Linked DNA regions of Homo sapiens: all the other regions are linked to region 1. Evidence: fine-mapped expression QTL. A gene starts in region 1. Each other region holds a variant in brackets. All regions are shown on one strand. Distances are between the middles of the regions. Region 1 holds the start of NINJ2-AS1 (NINJ2 antisense RNA 1). Region 2 overlaps NINJ2 (ninjurin 2). Region 3 overlaps B4GALNT3 (beta-1,4-N-acetyl-galactosaminyltransferase 3).

The links. PIP is the estimated chance that this variant, and not a neighbour inherited with it, causes the effect.
Region 2: its variant is fine-mapped to the expression of NINJ2-AS1 in whole blood (INTERVAL, PIP 0.98).
Region 3: its variant is fine-mapped to the expression of NINJ2-AS1 in Th17 cells (Schmiedel 2018, PIP 0.95).

What each region holds. Positions count from the first base shown.
Region 1 is chr12:626,637-634,813 of GRCh38, forward strand. It overlaps NINJ2-AS1 (NINJ2 antisense RNA 1), which reads left to right and starts at 4,255. Exons shown (of 5, transcript NR_122124.1): 1 at 4,255-4,349; 2 at 5,578-5,611; 3 at 5,873-5,980. All of the region lies in intron 1 of NINJ2 (ninjurin 2), which reads right to left. RefSeq lists silencers at 4,041-4,120, 4,181-4,280.
Region 2 is chr12:587,161-595,337 of GRCh38, forward strand. The region is part of intron 1 of NINJ2 (ninjurin 2); the gene reads right to left. It also overlaps the pseudogene RNU7-103P. Among named protein-coding and RNA genes, the nearest start is that of NINJ2-AS1, 40 kb to the right of the region's middle. The variant C/T (reference allele first, on the strand shown) is at 3,913.
Region 3 is chr12:556,957-565,133 of GRCh38, forward strand. B4GALNT3 (beta-1,4-N-acetyl-galactosaminyltransferase 3) reads left to right here. Exons shown (of 20, transcript NM_173593.4): 16 at 652-805; 17 at 1,060-1,132; 18 at 1,552-1,705; 19 at 2,339-2,465; 20 at 4,387-6,553. The coding sequence ends at 4,495. It overlaps NINJ2 (ninjurin 2), which reads right to left. Exons shown (of 4, transcript NM_016533.6): 4 at 7,340-7,725. Among named protein-coding and RNA genes, the nearest start is that of NINJ2-AS1, 70 kb to the right of the region's middle. RefSeq lists an enhancer at 5,793-6,294. The variant C/T (reference allele first, on the strand shown) is at 4,549.

The DNA of each region.
Region 1 (8,177 bases):
TATAAACAATGGAGTCAGGGTGCCTGGTTCAAATCCTGGCTTTCTCACTAGCTGACACGAGGCAGTCAACCTTTCTGCACCTTAGTTTCCTTATCTCTAAAGTAGGAATAATAATAATAATAGTATCTACCAAATGGGGTACTATTAAGAGTTAAATAAAATAACTTAGCTTGGTGCTGTAGCTTGCGCCTATAATCCCAGCACTTTGAGAGGTTGAGGCGGGAGGATTGCTTGAGCCCAGGAGTTCAAGACCAGCCCGGGCAGCATAGTGAGATCCTGTCTCTACAAAAATTAAAAGAGTACGCAGGTGTGGTAAGACATGCCTGCAGTTACAGCTACTCAAAAGGCTGAGACGGAAAGGTTGTCTGAGCCTAGGAGTTCGAGGTTGCAGTGAGCTATGATTGTACCACTGAACACCGGCCTGGGTGACAGAGCCAGACCCCATCTCAAAAAAAAATTCAATAGAATAATTTGTGTAAAGTGCTAAATACAGTAATGGCCCATAGCAAGCACCTAATAACTGTTAACTATTATTTTTGAATTAAATCATAGCATCCAACCTGAAAAGCAATATATGGCAATAAGGAATTTTCTAGGCCATGCCTTTAGAATTTTTATCATCCTTTTAGAATTGAAGCTTCTTGTTAGAAGATTCTGTCCTGTATTTTCATGGATGCCCCAACAGCCACCCTCCCTGCCTTGCAATCAAACAGGTGCTCAAATATTTTTTGAGAATATAATTAAGTACATTTCTACTTTCTAATTTCTAAATGAATGAAATAGAGAACTAGGAAACTTAGGACAGTAAGACTGATGTCAGCTGGGCAATCAGAGAAGGCTTCATGGAGGAGGTGAGACTGACGTAGCCCTTGACAAGTTCGATAGGATTTAGATGGATAAAGTGAAGCAAGGAAAATTCTAATTATTGGAGCCTCGAATGGGTTGGGTGTTCATGAGAGGCAGGGGCAGACTTCGTGGGTACAGCTGCAGCATACTGCACACACATTAAGGGTGGCACCTCTGTGCCCAGACCTGGGCTTAAGTGGAACCAGACTCGCCTGGGACAGACTTTGGGCGCAGTGACAGGAGCCCATCAGCTGCTCAAGAGACCCCTGCCAAAATCTCAACTGGAGCTGGGCACAGTGGCGCATGCCTGTAATCCCTGGGCACAGTGGTGCATGCCTGTAATCCCAGCTACTTGCGTGCCTGAGGCAGGAGAACCCGGGAAGTGGAGGTTGCAGTGAGCTGAAATTGGGCCACTGCACTCCAGCCTGAGCGATAGAGCGAGACTCCGTCTCAAAAAGAAAAAAAAAGTCTCAATCAGCTAGGCCAAGTCCTTCCTGTCCTGTCCCTGTCCCTGCCGCATCCTCCCCGCCCTGCCCCCGGCTCCTCTTTCACACCCTGTGCCAGACAGAAGGCCTGGGAGTGAAAAGACTGGCCATGGGGACAGAGAGCTGGATCCAAAGGTCAAGGCTGAGTTTGCCAGAGCCTGCAGGATCCCTGCACCGCTTTACTGGATCCCCAGGTTGAGCTGAGATGCTGCTCTGGGTGGAGAAGGGGCCATGAGCCTCTGGCAGGCCTCTGTGTCACACCTTTCCACCAGGGAAAACTGGGTGTGGATGTTTCCCCTTCGTATGTACTCTGAGATCTCTATGAGGAGTCTTCCTAGAGGGGAAGGGGGAAGCCTCCTCATAGAGATCTCAGAGTACATAGGAAGGAGCCAGGTCTTTCCGTTCTTCTGCGTCTCCTCACAGCGTCACCTACAAGGGTCTGGCACACAGTGGACACTCTTCCTGGCTTTTCTGGTACAGAGTGACCAACATAACAGTTAATAGCATTTCCTCATTTTACAGACAGGGAAAGCAAAAAACATAAGCATGGTAATGCATATATAATACGTGTCTATGGCAGAGGCATTCGAACCAGAATGACTCCATCTTGAATAGGGGCTGGTAAAATGAGGCTGAGACCTGCTAGGTGGCATTCCCAGGAGGTTAGGCATTCTTAGTCACAGGATGAGATAGGAGGTCAGCACAAGACACAGGTCACAAAGGCCCTGCTGATAAAGCAGGATGCAGTAAGGAAGCCTGCCAAAACCCACCAAAACCAAGATGGCAATGAAAGTGACCACTGGTTGTCCTCACTGCTCAGTATATGCCAATTATACATTAGCATGCTAAGAGACACTCCCACCAGCACCATGGCAGTTTACAAATGCCATGGCAACACCTGGAAATTATCCTATATGGTCTAAAAGAAGGAGGAGTCCTCAACTGGGGGAGGGGGAAAATCTCCATCTCCTTCCCAAAAAGCTCATGAATAACCCACCCCTTGTTTAGCATATGATCAAGAAATAACCATAAAAATAGCCAACCAGCAGCCCTCAGGGTTGCTTTGCCTATAGAGTAGCCATTCTCGTGTTTCTTTACTTGTCTAGCAAACTCGCTTTCACTTTACTTCATGGACTAGCCCAGAGTTCTTGTACAAGATCCGAAAAACCCTCTCTTGGGGTCTGGATCGGGACCCCTTTCTGGCAATGATACCCTCTTATTGTGGTAATTCATTTAATCCTCACAATGATCCTCTGAGGTAGGTGCCATTATTATCTTCATTTTACATGTGGGAAAACTGAAGCCGGAAGGATGAACAGCTTCCCAAGTTCACCGAAGGAGTAAGTGGTCCACAGGACTAGGAGCCTGGGATTTGCACCGAGGCAGTCTGGCTCTGTTCTCCATTGGCCACTGCGATGCCACCTGGGTGGAGGGAGCACAGGTCCAATGGCGGGGAGAGTACAGTACAACCCAGGATCCTGTCTTCCAGGTCTCTCCACGCAATTAACCTACTCAAAACTTCATGACAGTCCAGCAAGCTTGTCCAACCCACAGCCTGTGGGCCCCGTGCAGCCCAGGACGGCTTTGAACGCGGCCCAAAACAAATTCGTAAATTGTCTTAAAACATTATGAGTTCTTGGTTGGGCATGGTGGCTCACGCCTGTAATCCCAGCACTTTGGGAGGCCGAGGCAGGTGGATCACCTGAGGTCAGGAGTTTGAGACCAGCCTGACCAACATGGAGAAACCTCGTCTCTACTAAAAATGCAAAATTAACCAGGCCTGGTGGCGCATGCCTGTAATCCCAGCTACTCAGGAGACTGAGGCAGGAGAATCACTTGAACCTGGGAGGCAGAGGTTGTGGTGAGCCGAGATCGTGCCGTTGCACTCCAGCCTCGGCGACAAGAGCAAAACTCAAAAAAAAAAAAAAAATATATATATATATATATATATATATGAAGTTTCTTTGCGATTTTTTAAAAGTGTATCAGCCATTGTTAGTGTTGCTGTATTTTATGTGTGGGGCAAGACAATTCTTCCAATGTGGCCCAGGGAAACAAAACAATTGGACACCCTGGATGATGAAAAAGAGCACTCTTCAGCCCCTGCTGTCACCAAAGCCCCACCTCAGTTCTTGCCCTTAGGTAACGCCAAGATAGCAAAATGGAATTTTACCAAACCGCTCTTAGGTTCCTTCCCCAGGAGACCAGAAATGCCCTGGGGACTGCCTGCCTTTGAGGCAAATTTTTTTTCCTTTTTAAAGAAAGTGGTAAACATCTGAAAATAGAGTTTTTGAAAGAAAGTGACTCTTCAGTTGTAATTATAGCAGAGAGGGTCATTGCTTTCTATCAGCAAGAAAGCTGCTTCTATTTTTTTTTATTCTCTTTTTCTTGGTTTTTTGTTTTGTTTTGTTTTGTTTTGTTTTTTGAGACGGAGTCTCGCTGAGTTGCCCAGGCTGGAGTGCAGTGGTGTGATCTCGGCTCACTGCAAGCTCCATCTCCCGGGTTCAAGCGATTCTCCTGCCTCAGCCTCCCGAGTAGCTGGGACTGCAGGCTCCGGCCACCACGCCTGGCTAATTTTTTTTGTATTTTTAGCACAGACGGAGTTTCACCATGTTGACAGGCTGGTCTCGAACTCCTGGCCTCAGGTGATCTGCCCGCCTCGGCCCCCCAAAATGCTGGGATCACAGGCGTGAGCCACCGCTCCCCGCCGCTGCTTCTAAATACAGCCTGTATAATGCAAATCCCCAAAGAGGGCCAGCCTCTGGCCCCATTCAGCTTCCTCCCTCAGAGGCTGGGTGCGTGCGCCCTGGGCGGGGCGGCGGGCTCCCTCCGGAGAGGCCCCAGCCCGGCCTCGTGCCCCTCCCCAGCAGGCTTCCGGCCCTGCGCACAGACCCAAATGGCGCGGGAGGAGGAAGAAGGGGTCAGCTTCAAGCCTGACGTTCTAGGGGGGAGCCGCTTCTTAAGTACGTGCTAGGATCAAGGGTGCATTTGCAAACTTTTCAAAATGCCTTAGAGGAGGTAGGAGTCAAGCCCTTGGGATCTGGAGGGGAAGGAGGAGAGTCAGTTAAACCGCAGAAAGGTTGGTGGGGAGTGGGCTCAGTAATGGCCCCTGTCACAGCCTCGGGCCGGGACTCGCCAGCTCATTTTCTATTTCTAACTCAATGCCAGGCACTGAGCACTGTGCTCAACCTAGTAATTTGGAGACGGAGGTGGATATGCATATAACAGAACAGGATGCTCTCCGGACAAACGTTCTGAAGGAAAAGCAAACGGAAGATCCTCCCGCCTCTGCTGGGCAGTCTCTAATGACCCCTGGGGTATGTTCCAGACATGCGTGGGCATCTGCGAATTTACTCACCTGAGAGCTGCCTCTACCTTTTTTTGTTAAATTTTTATTTATTTATTTATTTATTTTGAGACGGAGTCTCCCTCTGTCACCAGGCGGGAGTGCAGTGGCGTGATCTCTGCTCAATGCAACCTCCGCCTCCCGGGCTCAAGCGATTCTGCTGCCTCAGCCTCCCGAGTAGCTGGGAGTACAGGCGCGCGCCACCACGCCCAGCTAATTTTTATATTTTTAGTACAGACGGGGTTTCACCATGTTGGCCAGGATGGTTTCTATCTCTTGACCTCGTGATCCGCCTGCCTCGGCCTCCAAAGTGCTGGGATTACAGGCGTGAGCCACCGCGCCTGGCCTGCCTCTACCTCTGATCCCTGGGATCAGAAATGAGAAATGCAAAGATTGTCCCTGTGTTATGTGTGTACTGTTTGTAATTGTAATTCACAATCCCCTTTCTTGCTCCTCACCCCATATTCAATTAAGAGAGAAAGGTGAAAAACACAAAGCACAAAATGTTTCCAGGAAACTATCTGAAACTCCTGGAAGGCTAGATTTAGGTATAAACAGAGTAGAACTCCAGATTTCTGCAATGCTCCTTAGGGGCTGAGCTTCCTGCATGCCCTTGACAATTAGAGGAGTTTTTTTTAATACTTCAAAATTATTCCAGAAAGGCATGCAGATGAGAAGATAACCAGGTTATGAGGAAGCCCAAGGTATTTGGTAAGGATGCTCAAGTTTTGGGGAAGGTCAGCTGAAATAGCAATTTGTGGGTGGACTATTAGCAGGGAGTTGACTGGAGAATTAATCAGACGTTGAAGGGACATGGGGGACCCGGGAGGATGAAGTCTGAACTCGGGCTCAGGATATGGAAAAAGATTGAGTAAAGCTGAGATTCCTGTGTGCTTAAAGTCCTAACCAGCCCCAGGGTGTCTGAGGCACGCTGGTAAGTAGAATCAGAGATTCCATTCAGCAAAAGCAGACAGGAAAACAAATCTCTTTTCTTTGTTTGTCCTGGTTGAAAACCAAACACGGTAGCCGTTTGATGAAATTCCAGTGTCAGGAGTGTTTGGGCAGGGAAGGGAGGGTAAAATTGCAGCTAGCCTCTGACCACAGGGAAATCAGCCTAACGGCTCCATTCAGGCCATTCTTCAGCCCTGCACTCTGGAATGTTCACAGGGTGTCTGTGCATCTCCCCTGATTCCAGCCCACAGGACACTTGCTCTCTCTTTCTTGTGACCCCAACATGTCAGCTGGCAAGACTCAACATTCCTGTCTGGGACTGAGCAGCTTGAACCACTTGTATGAGTCACAGGTAATTTTCAGCAGTGTGAGAAAACACTGAATGAAGAGAAGTACTAGGTCCTGAGGAGGCTTAGCTCTGGGGTAATGGAGATGGGGGTGGGGGTGGAGAGAGGGTTCTAAAGGTCAACTGCAATGTCCCCCAGTTTTCATGTATCTTCATCAACATAGACAAATCCCAGCGGATCTAAGCTTTTGAAAACTTGACCTTTTGTAAAAATGAGGAAACTGAAGTTATAGCCCTTTCTGGAGTGTGGAAGCTTTGGAAACATCGCACCACAGTGAAGCAAGCCGGGGAGGGTGCCAGCCCAAACCAGAACCAAGTGTGGGCATTTCATGCCATGAACACAAAAGGTTAGTGGGCCGGGTTGAGCTTGGGCAAGATCTCACAAGATCTTAGATCCAGTGTATTTTCTGTCAGTAGATTTCAATCAGAAAGGTCGTGAAATATACCTCAGCCTGGCATTGGGCTTGGGGCAAAGATCTAGGACTTTCTTTTCCAGGGAAGTTCTCTGAGAACTGAATCAATTCCTGCCCTCTAATCTATCTTGCATCCCTTCCTGAACCAACCTCCCTAAAACTGTGCCCCACTCCTCCATTAAAAAAAAACAAGGCCGGGCGCGGTGGCTCACACCTGTAATCCTAGCTCTTTGGGAGGCCGAGGTGGATGGATCACCTGAAGTCAGCAGTTCAAGACCAACTTGGCCAACATGGTGAAACCCTGTCTCTACTAAAAATACAAAAATTAGCCAGACATGGTGGCACGTGCCTGTAATCCCAGCTACCCGGGTTGCTGAGGCAGGCGAATCACTGGTTCCACCAGGAGGTGGACGCTGCAGTGAGCCGAGATGGTGCCACTGCATTCCAGCCTGGGCAACAGAAAGAGACTGTCTCCAAAAAAAAAAAATCATGTCATTTAAAAACTTCTGAGGCTGGGCCCAGTGGCCCATGCCCGTAATCCCAGCACTTTGGGAGGCTGAGGCAGGCAGATCACTTGAGGCCAGGAGTTCAAGACCAGCCTGGCCAACACGGCAAAATCCCGTCTCTACTAAAATACAAAAATTAGCTGAGCGTGGTGCCACATGCCTGTAGTCCCAGCTACTCAGGAGGCTGAGGCAGGAGAATCATTTGAACCCAGGAGGTGGAGGTTGCAGTGAGCCAAGACTGCCCCACTGCACTCTATCCTGGGTAACAGAGTGAGATTGTGTAAAAAAAACAAACCACTTTAGAGTTTTCCACTGTCTGCTAAATCAAGTACACATTCCTTTGCCTGGTTATTTAAAAATCCCCCATAATTCGGCCCCACCCCACCTATCCAGTTGTGCTTTCCCCCACACACACCGTCTGATCTGGTCAGAAAGGCCTTTGCACTGTCCCAGATAGCTTACTCATTCCTGCCTGTTTCATTCCCAGTTTTCTCCACATTCATTCCTGAATCTGAATTTATTCTTCTTTAACAAAACCAAAAGACCCTACCTTAGGATATTTGGCCAACTACTTCAGTTTGCATTTCTCCTTCTCCAAGTAATTACCAAGTCACGCCTTGATATATATACCTCCCCCAATAGACTATAAGCCACCATGAGTTCAGCACAACTTATGTAAGTTATAGTGCCTCACATAAGTTGTGCTCACTAAATAAATGTTGATTAGTTGCAGTTCTTTTTTTTTTTTTTTTTTTTTTTTTGCACTGTCTCCCGGGCTGGAGTACAATGGCACGATCTCGGCTCACTGCAACCTCCGCCTCCCAGGTTCACACGATTCTCCTGCCTCAGCCCCCCTAGTAGCTGGGATTACTGGCGCCCACCACCACAGCCGGCTAATTTTTTGTATTTTTAGTAGAGACGGAATTTCACCATGTTGGCCAGAATGGTCTTGAACTTCTGACCTCGTGATCCGCCTGCTTCGGCCTCCTAAAGTGCTGGGATTACAGGCATGGGCCACCGCGCCCGGCCTAGTTGCAGTTCTTTTTCTTCTGCAGTAAAGGCCAAACACACACAAAATCAGTCTCCTCCCAATCCTGACTTGCATCCTCTAAGTTTAGTAGCACAGAGAGAAAATGTAGAGAATGGTCGTACCCAAGATATTAAGGGGGGATGAGTTCAAGACAAAATAAAATGTTTGCCCAACGCTGACATTTTAAATGCTCATCTGAAAATTGGCACCTCCAGAATGTTGCCCTCTTCAGAGCATTCAGACCCAGGGCACCA
Region 2 (8,177 bases), 39 kb before region 1:
ATTGGACTAGAGTCCTGATCTGGGTCAACAAAAAGACTAGGGGACCAGGAGGCAAGAGTCAGCTCACCAGGACGGGCTGCAAACGGGGAGGTCTGCATCCAGGGTGAAGCTGCCCCTCCACAGGAAGCAGGCCCAGGAACCCCTGGCAATGCAGACAGGCTGAACCCACAGCACAGCCCCCATGGCGGGAGCAACTCCCGGTCAAGCGGCGGCAGGAAGTGCCCCAAAGGTGTCCACTTTTATTGTGCAGGACAGAATGTCTGCACATGCACCATCTTACAGAATTTGCACAGCTGCCTAAGGACAGAAGCTGAGGCTGCATTGTAAGGACACGCAAAGGGAGCCCCAGAGGACTGAAGTCCCTTTCTTAGGGCTCCTCAGGCTCTCTGACCAGTGAAGTTCTACAGCTGGGAGGGGAGCTGGGCTTTCCTAGTCTTGGCCCGATGCTTGTGGTCTGGCCTCTGACCACTCTCCATCTCACCCTGCCCAGCGCTGAGCCATTCTTCCCTGCCCCGGGGCCTCTGTGCAGGTGGGGGGTGGGGGTGGCCAGGGACCCTGCGCCTCACAGGCAGGTCACCAGGATCTGTAGAGCAGATTGAACACCCCATCCCCCGTGTTTGAAATGCCCTCTGGGCCCTTCCTCGCCGTCCACCCAGGAAGCTCTTCCTTCCATTAAGCTGGTTATTTCCACCACAGGGCCTTGGTGACACCTCTCACCTGATCACTATCCGTTCTCTCACTGGACGGTGAACTCCTTCAGGGTAGGAGCCGTAGTATGAGGCTGGCACTTACTGATAACTAGTAGTTGTTTTATCCATGAAGGGAGGGGACGACCTACACAGGCCTACACTTTAGGCATGACACGACAGCCAACATAGTCCCCAGACCAGTGTATCATCCTTCCACTATGTAAACACAGATAGGTTTCCCCTTGAAAAAAATTCCCACTATGTGAAAAGCCAAATCAATTTACAAGACAGCAAAATGGCGGAAGGAAGGGAAGGGACGGAAGGGACGGAAGGGACGGAAGGGACGGAGGGGACGGAAGGGACGGAGGGGACGGAAGGGACAGAAGGGAGGGAAGGGAGGAGGAGACATCTTGCAAATGGACTCCCCGCAGACTCCTTCAAATAGTCCCCTTTGTGAATCTCTTTCTAATCTTAGAATGAGGAAAACCTTTATAACTATGACATCAAATCCGGAAGCCATAAAGGATTAATACATTTGACTGCATAAAATTAAAATTATTTGAATGCAAAATAATAATAGCATATACACTTATAGCGCTCATTTCATGTCAAACCCTGCACAGAACACTTTATATATCTGAAGTCGTGTCATTCTCATAACAATCCCTGGGATAAGTACTGTCCTTATCTAAGGGACTCTGAGGTTAAGTAACTAAACTATGGTCATTCAGCCAGTAAGTTACAGACAAAACCCAGTAGCCTGCCTTCAGAGTGTGTGCTCCAGCCATTTCCTCGACCACCACACACCACACAAAATCAGGAGACAAAGAGAAACGGGGGGAACACTGCTGCACAGAGCACAAAGGACTGATTATCCTGAAGTCTGTGGAGGCCTTAAAAATGAGCCAACAGAAAAACTGAGTACAAACAAGCAAGCCCCTGAAGAAACATCACAAATCTGTGTAATAGATATGATAGCCTACATGATTGGCGAAGACTTAAGAGACTGATAATACTCAGTGTTGGTGAAGACATGGCTAAGCAAGCACTTTCACGTCCTTGGTAGAAATGTAAATTACTACCAAACGTACCAGAATTGTTACAATCATTTTTTTTTGGAGGACAATCTGACAATTATCTATTAAAATTTAAAATAGTCTTACCTAGTAAGTCCACTTCTAGGAGTCTCCCACAGAATAAGTCTCCCACAGAAAATGCTCCCCAAAGCTCAAAAAGACAAGCTATTCCATGCATCATTATTGATAATGTCAAAAACTGGGAATGAGCCAAATTGTAATCAAGGGTGTGTGGGCTAAATAAGCTGGCCTACAACCACACAATTAAATACTACATGTGTCTTTGAAAAGAGAGAGGTGTTCTTGTTCAATCAGTAAAAAACAATGGACAAAATGAAACAAAACAAAAAGAATGAGGTAGATCCCTATGATTAGATACAGAAGATATCTAAAATGTATTTAGTGGGGAGCAAGTCAGTAAGAACATGATATGATTCTATATTGGTAAAAATGAAACAAAGTATTCAGAGGATCTACTTTATATTTCAATGCATTAGAATAAGCACAGGAAACAGATATGGGAGGAATTTCTATCACACTAAAGACTTTCCCTTTCTTTCTAAGTTATGTATTTTCCCAATTGTAGGTTGTTTTCTCATGGGAGTTTGGTTTCAGTAAAAACCAGAGAACCTGCTAGACAAATTCTAGAAGAGCTCTAACACTTCCACTTCTAATTTTTCACACCTAAGACATCATCCTGTTACAATCAGGAAAAATATAATAAAGATGAAATTAAATATGCGATAAATAGCAAAAAACACCTTCCCTGTTTCTTTCTTTCTTCTACAAGCATGTGCTGGGTATGCCTCCTGAGTCCTAGGCACTGATGTCTCAGGCTGGGCATGCAGAGACGAATCCATATGGCTCCTGCTCTCAAGAAACTTCTGGAAGGGGGGAAACAGTTGGTAAATTTAGGGGGGGATTGTCTCCTGGACTCAGTTTTCCTCCGTGGGGTGAGGCAGATGGGCTGCTGTGGCAGCCGTCTCAGAGAGGGCGGGGTCTCCCTGTCAGGACCCAAGGGGTCCTAGGGTACAGGTGGAAGGCAGAGGTGGAGCGGTGTGGGGCAGCGGATCAGGGAGGGGCTGATGAGGCACTTAGGCTTTGTCCTGAGGGCAGCAGGGAGCAGTAGGAAGGTTATCCGCAGCCAGTGGCATCCTTAGAGCAGCGTCTTATTTTTTATTTTCGTTATTTTCTGTAGAGACGGTGTCTTGCTATATTGCACAGGCTGGTCTGGAATCCTGGTCCCAAACAAGTGGTCCTCCTGCCTCAGCCTCCCAATGTGCTGTAGCAGCATTTTAGCAGGACCATGATGGAAGCGGCTCGAAGGATGGGCTGGAGCGGAGAGCCACGCGCGGGAGCCCTGCTGGAGGTCTGCAGCACAGCATTGGCAGTGGGTATAAAAATGGGACTGCCCCAAGAGAGGGTGAGGAAACAGAACTGGCAGGACTGGGTGAGCGATTGGATGCTGAGGGTGGGGAAAGGGAGGGGTGGAAGACGACACCCTGTGCCTCTGGCTGGGTGGCAACTTTGTGCCTTCATAGTCTAAAAACGCACCCTCAGCGTTGCAGCCCCAATAGGACTCAGTTGATGAACAACTTTCCAGGAACGTGGCTCTTGTGTGAAAGGGGCACCTGCGGGAACCTGCACAGATGCAGCTGCCTGGTGGGATTACAGCAGTCCGCCCAGCCACTGCCCAGGGCGCCTGGAAGCCTGTCAAGGGCATAGTCCTTTGTGGCTGATGCTTACAGCTGATCAGAACCCAGGACACTAGCACTTACTATCAAGGTTATAGGGAGGCTGATGCTTACAGCTGATCAGAACCCAGGACACTAGCACTTACTATCAAGGTTATAGGGAGGCTGATGCTTACAGCTGATCAGAACCCAGGACACTAGCACTTACTATCAAGGTTACTGGGAGGCTGATGCTTACAGCTGATCAGAACCCAGGACACTAGCACTTACTATCAAGGTTATAGGGAGGCTGATGCTTACAGCTGATCAGAACCCAGGACACTAGCACTTACTATCAAGGTTACTGGGAGGCTGATGCTTACAGCTGATCAGAACCCAGGACACTAGCACTTACTATCAAGGTTATAGGGAGGCTGATGCTTACAGCTGATCAGAATCCAGGACACTAGCACT[C/T]ACTATCAAGGTTATAGGGAGGTGGCAGAGAAAAGAAGTTCAGCGAGAGTGGTGCCTCTTTTCAAAATGGTATGACAGTCCCTAGGTTCTCTGGCTCCTGTTTCTGGATTCAGTGCTGTGAGGGCCTCTCACCATCATGTGGTCTGTGTGAACCAACCATCAGGGCAGTTTAGGTACTGCAGGGTGTTGGGGCCCCAGTCCTTAGCAGGGTTCAAGCAGCGGGTGCCATGCCTAGATCTTACAATTCCCGGCAGCATCTCCCTTCACCTCCTGCTTGCTGAGAGCACTTTGGTGGGCAGAAATAGCCCTGTCACTCATGCCCAGCTGCACACACGTCAACAACCTGGGGCTGTGCGCTCTCCTGATGCAAGGTCCTTTCTGCTAGTCATGACTACTAAGACCTGCTGCCCAGGACTGAGTGCTGATTCACCTACTAGGTTGGTCAGAGGGTTGGGGGCAACTCTGATTGCAGAAGCTCTCTGGATGGGCAGTGCTAGCGGAGTTCCATAGAGCTGGTCTTAAAAGCAGGGGCCTTTTGGCTGAGCTCCGAGTCCCTGGAGGGACAGTGTCTGCTGTGAACAGATGTCACGGAGGGAGCAGTGCAGTGTCACCAGTCTGGCTTCTCGCCCCAGGTCCCTTGGGCACGTCTTATCTTATCGTGCAGCTGGGCTGGGGGTGCTGCCAGACTTTGTGGGAGCTGGCTGCAAGGGCCAAGGGTGTTTCTTTAGAGATATTTCTCAGGTTCTGGGCCTCATTAGAACAGGAAAGCCTTCTGAAAGAGTGACGTGGCCGGCGGCAGGTATGGTGTGTGACTTAACTAGTCAATTTTGAGCAAACAGAGGCCCCCAGGCGTTTTTCCCGGGTCACTCCCTTTGCCCCTCCTGCTCTGCTCATCCTTCCAACTGCTCCTTTAGCCTGAAGGCCTGGAGCCCCAGCCGCCAGGCTGTAGCCAAACGCATATCTTGTTTGCATTCTCGGTGAACTTACCATTAATCTGTGACAGATGAAAAATAGGAACTTTGAAGCCAGAATGGGGTCAAGTCTGGCTTTACTGCCTGCTGCTAGGTGACCTTGAACAAGCTAAGTTGTCTGAGCCATAGTGTCCCCAAGTGCAAAATGGGATAAAAGATAGTCCCTACCTCACTGGGCTGCTGCGACAACAGTAGGGCACACATAAAACAGTTAGGTGTCTCCTAGATAACATGAGGGAGTCATCGTCATTGCCGGAGGGATTCAGAGTGGACCCGTCACGGTACATTCTTGTGAATATCCAACAAACAGGTGTTGAACAAATGGAGAAAGATATTAGACACAGATTACGAAGAAACAGAATAACTAGCTTCTCTGGCCAGGAGCGGTGGCTCACTCCTGTAATCCCAGCACTTTGGGAAGTCGAGGCTGGCGGATCACTTGAGGTTAGGAGTTCAAGACCAGCCTGGCCAACGTGGTGAAACCCCGTCTTTACTGAAAATACAAAATTAGCCGGGCGAGGTGGCGCATGCCTGTAATCCCAGCTACTTGGGAGGCTGAGGCAGGAGAATCGCTTGAACCCAGGAGGTGGAGGTTGCAGTGAGCCAAGATTGTGCCATTGCCCTCCAGCCTGGGCACCAAAAGAAAAACTCCATCTCAAAATTTAAAAAAAAATCAATTACAAATTATTTGGTTAGTTGTAAGAAGCAGAACATACTAAGGAATGTAGTCCAAGTCCAAGCTCTGTTCAGGGATAAATACTGTCATTATAAAAATTAGTGAAAATAAGCCAACTGAAATTCATCTCAGAAAAGTTATGAAAAGACAATAAAACACACCTTAGGAAAACAGCAAGGAAGAACAAAATTAAGATAATTACAGAAATTTGTGAGTTACAAGGCTATCAGTAGATTGAGTAAATGAAACTATGGAATGGATTTTTTTAAAGAAAAGTAAAATAAATCCTTTCCCTAAAAATGCAATCAAGAAAAAAACAGGGAAAAAAAATGAACAGACAAAAGTAGAGTGGATACAGATGTTATAAATATAGTAGGAAAGAAGATTTTTTAATGGAAAAAATCCAGAAATCTATGTTAAATATAGGAACCATTCTCAATTTATTAGGTTCACTGCAATACTAACTGGGTGTAATGACTACATTGTTCATTTGGTAAAGTATTAAAGCACAATTACTAAGAACTCTTAGGGGAAGAAAAGAATAAGAAGGCAAGAATTTCCCTGCAATACATCAACATTTACTACTCAGTCAACTTTGAAACAGATCTGAAAACCTAGCGATTGTTAAAGAAGCATCACAGGCAGGGCGCAGTGGCTCATGCCTGTGATGAAGCTCCCAGCTTCATCAGAAATTTGTGAGTTACAAGGATATCAGTAGATGAAGCTCCCATCTTCATCACAGCTTCCCAGCACTGTGGGACGCTGAGGTAGGAGGATCACTTAAGCCCAGGAGGTTGAGACTAGCCTGGGCAACAGGGCAAAACCCTGTCTCTACAAAAAATAAAATTAGCCAGGCGTGGTGGTGCAGGCCTGTAGTTCCAGCTACTCAAGAGGCTGAGGTGGGAGGAGCGCTTGAGCCCAGGAGGTTGAGGCTGCAGTGAACCGTGAGTGTGCCACTGCCTCCAGCCTGGATGACAGAGTGAGACCCTGTCTCAAAAAGGAGGAGGAGGAGCAGAAGGAGGAGGAGGAAGAGGATGAGGAGAAGGAGGAAGAGGAGGAGGAAGTGGAAGAATAAGAGGAAGAAAGAAAAGAAGAAGAAGAAGCAGCAGCAGCAACAGCAGCAGCATCACCAACTTATCAGGGAAGGGGGCAAATTATTTATCAAATAAATTACAAATAGCTTAAATAAAAGTAAAAAAGAAATGATAGAGGGAAACTTCCTCAACTTGATAAAGAATATCTACAAAAAACCTGTGGCTAACATCACACTTAATGGTAAAAAACTAAGAGCTTTTCCACGAAGACAGGGAACAAGGCAAGACATCCCCTCTCACCACTCCCTTTCAACATCATACTGGAACTCCAGGCTAACGCAATAAGATGAGAAAAAAATGTATACAGATTGGGAAGAAAGAAACAAGATTGCCTTTGTTCACAGATGACAAGATTGTCTATGTAGAAAATTGAAAATAATAAAGAAAATCGAAAATAATAAAGAAAATCCCTGGAACTAATAAGCAAGTATTACAAGGTTGCAGGATACAAGGTTAATATAAAAAAGTCCATTGTTTTCCTATAGATCATCAATGAATAAGTGGAATCTGAAATTAAATACACAATGCCATTACATTAGTCCTCAAAAAATCAACTACTCATGTACTCCATAAATATGTACAGATATTATGTATCAATAAAAATGAACTACTTACATATAAATCTAACAAAATAATTACAAGATCTATGTGAGGAAAACTACAAAACTCTGATGAAAGAAACCAAAGAACTGGGCCAGGTGCTGTGGCTCATGACTGTAATTCCAACACTTTGGGAGGCGAAGGTGGGTGAATCACTTGAGTCCGGGAGTTCACAACCACCCTGGGCAATATAGCAAGATCCCATCTCAATTTTTTTTAAAAAACAAAAACAAAACAAAAAAAAGGAAGAAAAGGAAGAAACAAAACAACTGAATAAATAGAGAGCTATTCTATGTTCATGAATAGAAAGACTCAATATTTGTCAAGACATCGGTTCTTCCTAACTTGATCTATAGATTCAATGCAATCCCAATCAAAATCCCAGCAAGTTATTTTGTAGATATCAACAAACCGATTCTAAAGTTTACATAGAGAGGCAAAAGATGTAGAATAGCCAACTCAATATTAAAGGAAAAAAATAAAGTCAGAGGACTGACACCACCCGACTTCAAGACTTATTTAATACAAAGCTACAGTAATCAACACAGTGTGATATTATCAAAAGGATAGACAAGTAGATCAATGGAACAGAATATAGAGTCCAGAAATAGACCCACATAAATAGAGTCAACTGATCTTTGACAAAGGAGCACAGATAATACAATGTAGCAAAGATACTCTTTTCAACTAATTGTGCTGTAATAACTGGACATCCACATGCAAAAAGAAAAAAAAAAGAATCTAGACACAGACCTACACGCTTCGCAAAAGTTAACTCAAAATGGATCATAGATCTGCATGTAAAACACAAAACTATAAAACTCCTGGACAGTAGCATAGGAGGAAATCTAGATGATGTAACGTAACATAGGATAGGATGACACAGGATTTCCATCCTAGGTTATTGTTATGTCATAACAATAT
Region 3 (8,177 bases), 70 kb before region 1:
TAAGCACTTCTGAGAAAGACCACCTTATAGTTGAGGAAACTGAGGCTCACAAAAGGAAAGTCACTGGTTTAAGGTTATGTGGCTAGTAAATGTTGCCGCTAAAAACAAACACTGCCTCATAGGCCAGTGCTCTTTCTTTCGTACTAGGTTTCAGGATTGGGTGTGATAACTGGGGTTGCTAACACTGGGGATGATCATTGGTCTGGGGAAGTAAGACGGGCAGCGTACTTAATGAAGTGATGAGCAGGGTTTTATATGAGAAGGAGGAACACACAACAGGCAGAAGTGTAACAACAGAGGTAGGATGATGGGGATAGGACGACGATACTAAGAGGGACAGATAACAGGGTTTCACTAGTAGAGCGTGGCAGGGCTACTGACAATGAGCCCCAGCCAAGGCCTTCTCGTGGGTCCCCTGCCTGGGAGGAGGGAACGTGGGGAGCAGGATGCAGAGGCCCCCTTAACTGGTGAGCACTCCCTCTGCCTCATGTCTCTGTGCTGCACTGCTAATGGTTTTGCAGAGTTGCACTGTCCCCTCAGCCGAGGTCCGATGGGCACTCCTGACTCACCTGGGAGCTGGGGGTGGAGGCGCTCATCCGCTCATCTTTGCCTTGTCTGTGTTTCCTTCTCCTGCCTGACCCCCTGGGGTAGTGAAGAACCAGGCACGCTGGGTACAGCAATTCATCAAAGACATGGAAAACCTGTTCCAGGTCACCGGTGACCCACACTTCAACATCGTCATCACTGACTATAGCAGTGAGGACATGGATGTTGAGATGGCACTGAAGAGGTCCAAGCTGCGGAGGTGAGGGGGACCACCAGCCAGGGGGTGGCATGGGCCACGTCCATCCTAAAGTCCTAGGGCTGCTGGGTCCAGGGTAGAGCCAGGAGTCCTGCCCAGCCTTCCTGATTCCTAGTCTCCAACTTTTCCCAGAGGGCTCACCTGCCCATAATCCCATCCCAGGAGCACACATCATCTCTCTTCTATGCCTGCCAACTTCCTCCAGGGGACCACCGCAGCTGAGTCCTGATACGCAGCCCTCTCTCCCCTTCCTGCAGCTACCAGTACGTGAAGCTAAGTGGAAACTTTGAACGCTCAGCTGGACTTCAGGCTGGCATAGACCTCGTGAAGGTAAAGGGCCTGGATGGGGCCTGCGAGATGGAATTCAAGGCTGGTTAAGAGGTAGAGAGACATTTGGGGTAAATGAGGTGGTGAGCCCCTCAGGGAGGACGGGAATGAGGACACAGGAGGTCCTCTCTGCTGTGCTGCAGGCCAGTGCTAGGGTGGGACCAGCAAATCACAGTGGAGCATTTGCCCAGTTGTCCAGGGTCCTTGGAGCCTATAAAGAGTGGGGAGGAGTCAGAATTCACTCTGATGGTTAAGACCTGTGCTCCAATGTTCAGCACTGTGGAACTCTGCCCAGCAGCTGGTTTTGTGGGAGTTTGTGAATCACTCCAATAGGGAAGACTCCGAGGCTTCTCCTAGACGGCGACCTGACCTCCTAGCTCTGGTCTGCAGGGTCTGCTGACCCTGCCCACATCTGTCCCCAGGACCCGCACAGCATCATCTTCCTCTGTGACCTCCACATCCACTTCCCAGCTGGAGTCATCGATGCCATTCGGAAGCACTGTGTGGAGGGAAAGATGGCCTTTGCCCCCATGGTGATGAGGCTGCATTGTGGGGCCACCCCCCAGTGGCCTGAGGGTGAGCCCTGCTCAGACTGGGGAGGGAGGAAAGACTTCTCTGATCTTGGCTCTTAACTCCAGAGCTGGGAACAGTCATATCTATGAGCGTCAGCATCCTCCTCCCCTGCCCCACCCTGCCCTCCTGTGGCCTTCACTCCCCGGAAAACTCACCAGACAAGGTCCCCTTGGGCTGAGCTGACAGCCACAGCAGCAGGTGCAGCAGTGCACACCTCCTGCGCCGTCTTCTCCTTGATTCATTCATCACACACTTACTAAGCACTGCTGTGTGCCAGATGCTCTGCCCTGTGGGGATTCAAAGATGGGAAAGGTAGCCTCCCTGCCTGTGGAAAGGGAAACGGACATGTAAACTGACACACAGCTGTGTCTTCTGTGGCTGCCGCTGTCCGATCCATTTGTAGGGTTGTTATCAGCCCATGGGCACAGCCTGGTAGCACTGCTGAGCCCTGAACCTTAGTTAGGGGTCTTTCCTCCAAAACAGGCAAAGTACTTGTTCAGCTAAGACAGTTTTCAGCCTCCCTCAACCCCAGCCTCTGACTTTCAGAAGAGCCTCTAGGCACACAGCCTGGAAGCCTCCTTCCTTCCTCCTCCTGGCCTCTGGCTCATCTCACCCGAAGCTCCTGTCTGTCCACAGGCTACTGGGAGGTGAATGGGTTCGGGCTGCTTGGCATCTACAAGTCTGACCTGGACAGGATTGGGGGCATGAACACCAAGGAGTTCCGAGACCGCTGGGGCGGGGAAGACTGGGAGCTGCTGGACAGGTGACTGGGAAGAGGAGGGCATCCACGAGGCCTGGGAATTCCATGGCGCTCCAGGCAGGGAGCCAGGCTACAGCAGCCTAGCTGTCCCCCTCGGCCGCAGAGTCCCAAAGCACAGTAAAGAGCACTGGACTCGGAGGACGCCCTCAAATCACCGGCCTCGCTGGGACTCAGTTTCTCTATTAGAGGGGTGTGACTCGCCCTCTGTCTGTGTCACAGGGTTGGTGTGAAAATTAACATGCCTGGTACACCGTGTACCAGGTACACCAAGCTGTGTAGACATAAACCATGATGTTCTCAGCACCAAGCAGGGCACCGTGGGAGAGACTGCATCCTCCCCAGCCCGAGGGTAGTGCGCCTCCCGTCAGCTGCCGAGCGGGGAGCCCAGAGTTGTGGGAATGGATAAGTAGACCTGGCAAAGGTCAGGAAAGACTTTGGGGCCAGCAGAAGAGACAGTGTAGACCACTGAAGGGCAAGAGGACATCCAGGAGGTGCCGGGTCATGAGACACCAAGGGACCTGGGGGTTTGGAGCAGGAGGAAAGGGTCAATGAGATGAAAAGCCTCAGAGAAGAACACAGTACAAGCTGCTGCCTTGGCAGGTGGACAAGGAGAGCAAGATTGGGCAGGGACACCAGGCCATGGGTGGTGAGGAGGCGGAGGCTGTTCCGTGTGAGGTTCCTCTTTCAAGAAATGTGCTGCCAAGAGAAGGGGCAGAGAGAGGATGGTGCCTTGAGATCTGAGCCTATGGTGAGGGAGCAAAGGAGAGGGGAGGGTACCCTTCAGAAGGGCATAAGCGCTGTAACAGCGTCCACAGGAGGTGGACAGGGCAAGGTCAGGAGCACTGGGGGCGGGACCTCGACACGAAGACACGCTCACTTCTTCCCGAGAGGCAGGACAAAATGCATCCACCAGTCACTGGGTCCCTATACATGGCCGGCCATCCACATCCGTTACCTCGTTTATTTCTCCCCAGACCTCAGTGAGGTCGGCATCATGATCTCCATTTTCCAGATGAGAAGACTGAGTCTTGAAGAGAAGTTAATAACTTGCCCCAAATCTCACTCACTTAAGCGTTAGAGGCTTGAAAACTAGGTCTATTGGTGTTTTTTCCCGTTGAGGGAAGAAAGAAAAGGAAGGTGACACACTAAGAGAATTCGAGTGAAAAGGGGGAAGGTAAAGGAACGTAGATAACTGGGAGCTCATAAAAAGGGTCTGAGATCAAAGGAGCCCCCAGGGCAGCTGGAAGCCTTGATTTGGGAAGCCGGGTCCAGCAGTCACCTCCACCTTGATCTCTGTGCTGGGCTTTTGCTGCCATGCACGGCTCCTGTACAGCCCTGAACCTCCTGCCTCCTCGGAGGCTCAGGCATCCAGTTCGGCCACTCTCAGCCCTGCCAGAAGTGCAGCCTCCCTGTGAGAGGGACACCCTGCAGGCTGCACATGCACAAAAGGCCTGGGGAGGGCCTAGGCGCCAGGTGTCTCAGTGCAGCAGCCCTGCCTTCCTCCGTCTATGACGTGTGCCCTGGAGGCTGGGCGCCAGTTATGGGGCACTCAGAGTGTGCCAGGAGCCGTGCTGAGCCCTCAGCATCCATCCTTCTCGTCTTCCCCACCTCTGATGTGTATATAGTATGTCTACTCTAATATTAGATAGATAGAATTCTATATCACACATTATCCTCTCATTACACGTATGTGATAATCGTCCTCCTAGAGATGAGCAGACAGGCTCTGAAAGAAGGCGTGACATACCCAGTCATGCAGCTGGGATCCAAACCCAGGCTGCCTGGCTTCAAAGCCCACAGCCGTCCACTGCACCTGCCTTCCCTGCCCCGTGGGGAGCGAACAGAGGGTCTGTGGTCGATGGGGAGGGGCCCCCCAGCTGCCTTCTGTGCTTCTGTTGGCTCATCTGTGTTTCTCCTCCTCCAGGATACTCCAAGCGGGCCTGGACGTGGAGCGTCTCTCCCTCAGGAATTTCTTCCATCATTTCCATTCCAAGCGAGGCATGTGGAGCCGTCGCCAGATGAAGACGCTGTAGCCGGAGGGTGTCCGCGGGGCCCAGCACTCCCCGCTCTGGACTAGCAGTGGCTC[C/T]CCAGGGCCCTGCTACTGTTCAGGGATGGGGAGTGGGGTGACGGCTGGACCCCAAGAGGCCTCGAAGCTGACGGCCCACTCCACCTGGAGCTGTCCCCTCACAGAGGCAGGTTCCGGGGCTCCTGTCTCTGCCTCCTGGGCCTTCAGAAGGGAGGACTTTGAGAGAGAGGCCAGGAGGGACCACTTGCTCAGTCGAGAACGGGAAGAGCTCCTGAGAAGGACGGGTCAGGAAGGAGAGATCTGACTGAGCGACACCATCCTCATCCATGAAGGTGCACGCCCACATCCCCCAAGCGCTCCTCACGCCAAGCGCTGACCACCAGACCCTCTTCTAGTGGACATATTTTATTGGGGGGCGGGGATTTTAAAAACAGAAAACCGAAACTGCTGTCCAGAGCGGGGGTGAGGTTGTGCACTGAGGGACTGTCCCCACGTGCAGGCCTCCCGCCCACTCCTATGTCCCTTGGGCGTTGTCCCTGGCCGCGGGACTGGTCCCACGTGGGGCAGGTCTCTGCTCCACCCCAGGCTCGTGCCTTCCAGAGACACACATCTCCCAGTAGCCACCAAACAGCTGGCCACTGATTAGGGCATTAACTTCCTCCGGATGGCTCACGTCAGACCAGAAGCACAGAACGGGCTGTTTCTGGTGCTTGGGCATTGGGAGGTGGGGAGCTGGCGGGCAGGGGGCTTGCCACTCCCTGGCACTGGACATTGAGGCCTGCAGAACAGGCAGGGTGATGAAGGCAGGGGAGAGAAGCCCTTTCCCTTACCGGCGTGCCTGTGGGTAAGGCCTCCCGAGAGGACATGGAGAAGAGGTAAAGAGGATGTGGACATATCTGTCAATTTCCTTAGGCAAGAAGCGGGTGGGGGCTGGACAGAAAGGGACGAAAAGGGAAGTGGAAGCTGTGAGCCTCACAGTCCAGCTCCACTGCAGACCTGCCCTTCTGCAGGGAGAGCCCTGGCCACCCGGCCTTGAGTGGAAGAAGAGGAAAGGGTGTACGGGGGCAAAACCCTGGACAGGGAGCAGGATAAGAAGGGGGCGGGATGAGAGGTTTGGGGAGGTGAGGACATTGCCCTGAGATATCCCCTGGAGGCAGGGAGAGGAGTGGGGGCAGGAGGAACTGAAGAGGGGGGCAGTTTCAGGGAAAATAGCCCTTAGCCTTTTTAGTCGATGCCACCCTTTCTGTCACCTGGAGACCTTGTACTTCTCTTGCACTAATAACCCCGGTGCTTTTGTGGCTGGGGGTTTTTCTGTTGCTGCTGCTGCCTCCACCACTGCTGTGAATTCACCCATGGTGCATTGGACACTGGATCTTGAACTCCAGAGTCTGTTTAGGGAGGTGAGCACAGGGCTGGGGGAGGTGCGGCGGGGCCCAGAAGACCAGGCCACTGAGCCCGCGCTCCAGGCTGTGACGGTCCAAACCACGGCACTGGAGCTGCAGGGTCTGCCTAGTGGGCTCTGCATTCCCCGAGAGCACGAGTTTGGCACATGGGAGAATGGAGCCCGTGGAGAACCTTCTGGGGGGTCGGGGAGAATCCCTGCCTCCCTTTAAGGAATCATGAAGGACAGAGACTTTTGAGATTGTGGCTTAGGAAGGCCATACCTGCTCCCTGGGCTGTGGCTTTTTCTGGTCCCTGCTGAGGCCGACTGGCCCCTGGAGAAGGATGGTGGGGCATAGGCTAGGGCTGCAGTTGGCCAGTGGGGCTGCCAGTTTCTTTCTGGGACCACTCTCGTCCTCGGGCATTGCACTGGAAGGCTGGAACCAGCCCAAACTGCCCACCTGCTTCACTTCCAATGACTAGGAGCCAGCCCAGCCTCCTGCCCTGCCCACACCCCTGCGCCCTGGGCCAGTGCCTTGCGTTTGATGTTACCTCCACACCATCTGCCTTAAGAGGAAGGGCCGGGCAAGGCCCCTACTCCCTAGAGAAATGTCTTGGGTAGGAGAGGGTGTGGGATGGTGGGAGGGGAAGCATTAAATACAGCAACTTCTTAGAAAAAAAAAAAGGTGCTTGTCTTTTCCTGTTGCTCTTCACGGATGTAAAGGATTGGGCTGAGGGGCCCAGGTGGGCGTGCCAAGGACCCTCCCACACCACCCTCCACCCTTACCACAAGTGTGATGCCTGCTGTGTGTGAGATGGCCTTCTCTGCACTGCGGTTTACTCAGGAAGAAGACAACATTGTTCCTGTCTGAGCAGCTCACCGTGTAATAGACTAGGCATTTTCTGTTCAGCAGATTAATGGAGGTTGGTGGTTTTAGCCGAGGAAAGCTATGGATACGCTGGGTGGAGAAGGCTAGATATAGGGCCAGAACGGTTTGGTGAGCAGTGGAGAGAAGCCAACGAGTGGCTGCTTCTAAACTGGCAGACCTTCTAAAAATCATTTCTGTTTCTGAGTTGGCAATGCTTTGCTAATGCTTTACAGATTTACCTTCCTCGTTATATTTGGCCCAGGCAAAGATCAAAATGAGTTTGCAGTCCTTAAACACATGCCTAAGGGAAGCTGAGACTGAAAGCCAGAATAGCTTACAGCAGGTTCGTGGAGAAGATTGTGCATATGTGCATCCACCTGCAATGGACTAATCTACAGTTCATGGGGCAGATGACGATAAGCGCAAGACATCTGGGCCAGGAACATTGGCTCCGAGCAGAACCCACAGAGGAGGAAGTAATTTAAAAGCCTTCCCACCCTCCAGGTCTGGGGTTTGCTCTCTTGAGCCCTCTCCAAGGCACAGATGGAGACCAGCCTGGATGCCTGAGCCTGCAGGACTAGACAAGTAAGTGGACTCAAGAGTGGATTTGAAGAAACCTTTATAGATATAGATTCCATTTTACAAGAAGGGAAAATTGAGGCCTGGAGCAGAAGGAAGCAGTGGGGTAGAGTCAGAACCAGCATCCTTAAGCCGGGCAGACTTGGCCTTAGACAGACATGCCTTACTTAGGTCCAGCAGATGCTACCAGGAAGGTATGGCTGGCAGTACCTGCGTCTGAGCTCAGGACTTCAGACCAAGATGGAAGTCCCTTAGACCAATAACATAAAAATCACTTTTTAACTCAGGTGCTGTGGGTAGGGAGCAAGGGCAGCTATACTGTCCTTTCAGAAGCTCTCCTGGGCTGTGGAAAGTGCCCACGAGCCTGGCAGATCACGGAGGAAGGAGGCAGAAGTTCCAGGCCCAGAACCTGTTGAGGAAGCAGAGAAGAGGCAATGAGGATGGCAGGCCAGATCAATGCCCCTCAACCTTCAGCATGCCCAGGATGCACCTGGCCACGTTACTCATGCACGTGCCTGTAGCACGTGCTCGAGCAGAGCCTGAGATTCTGCATTTCCAGCAAGTTCCTGGGTGGTTTGTGGATGCTGCTGACCCATGGACCACAGTCAGTAGCAAGAGCTGCTAGACAATGGCAGGGAGAAATTCCCCATCTCCACCTTTCCTCTTGCCGGAGGGGCAGAGTCAACCACTAATGGCATCGCCTCCACCCTGTCCCAGACCGTGGGAAAACCTGAGCCTGAGAGCAGAGAGCCATTAACACAGCAGTGGGGCTTTGTGCAAGCCTCGCTGAGGCCAGGCTCTTGCAGATCCTCTCCTTGCTCTCGGAGCTACAGGCCTTCCCCCTTTGTTTGGCAAGGGATC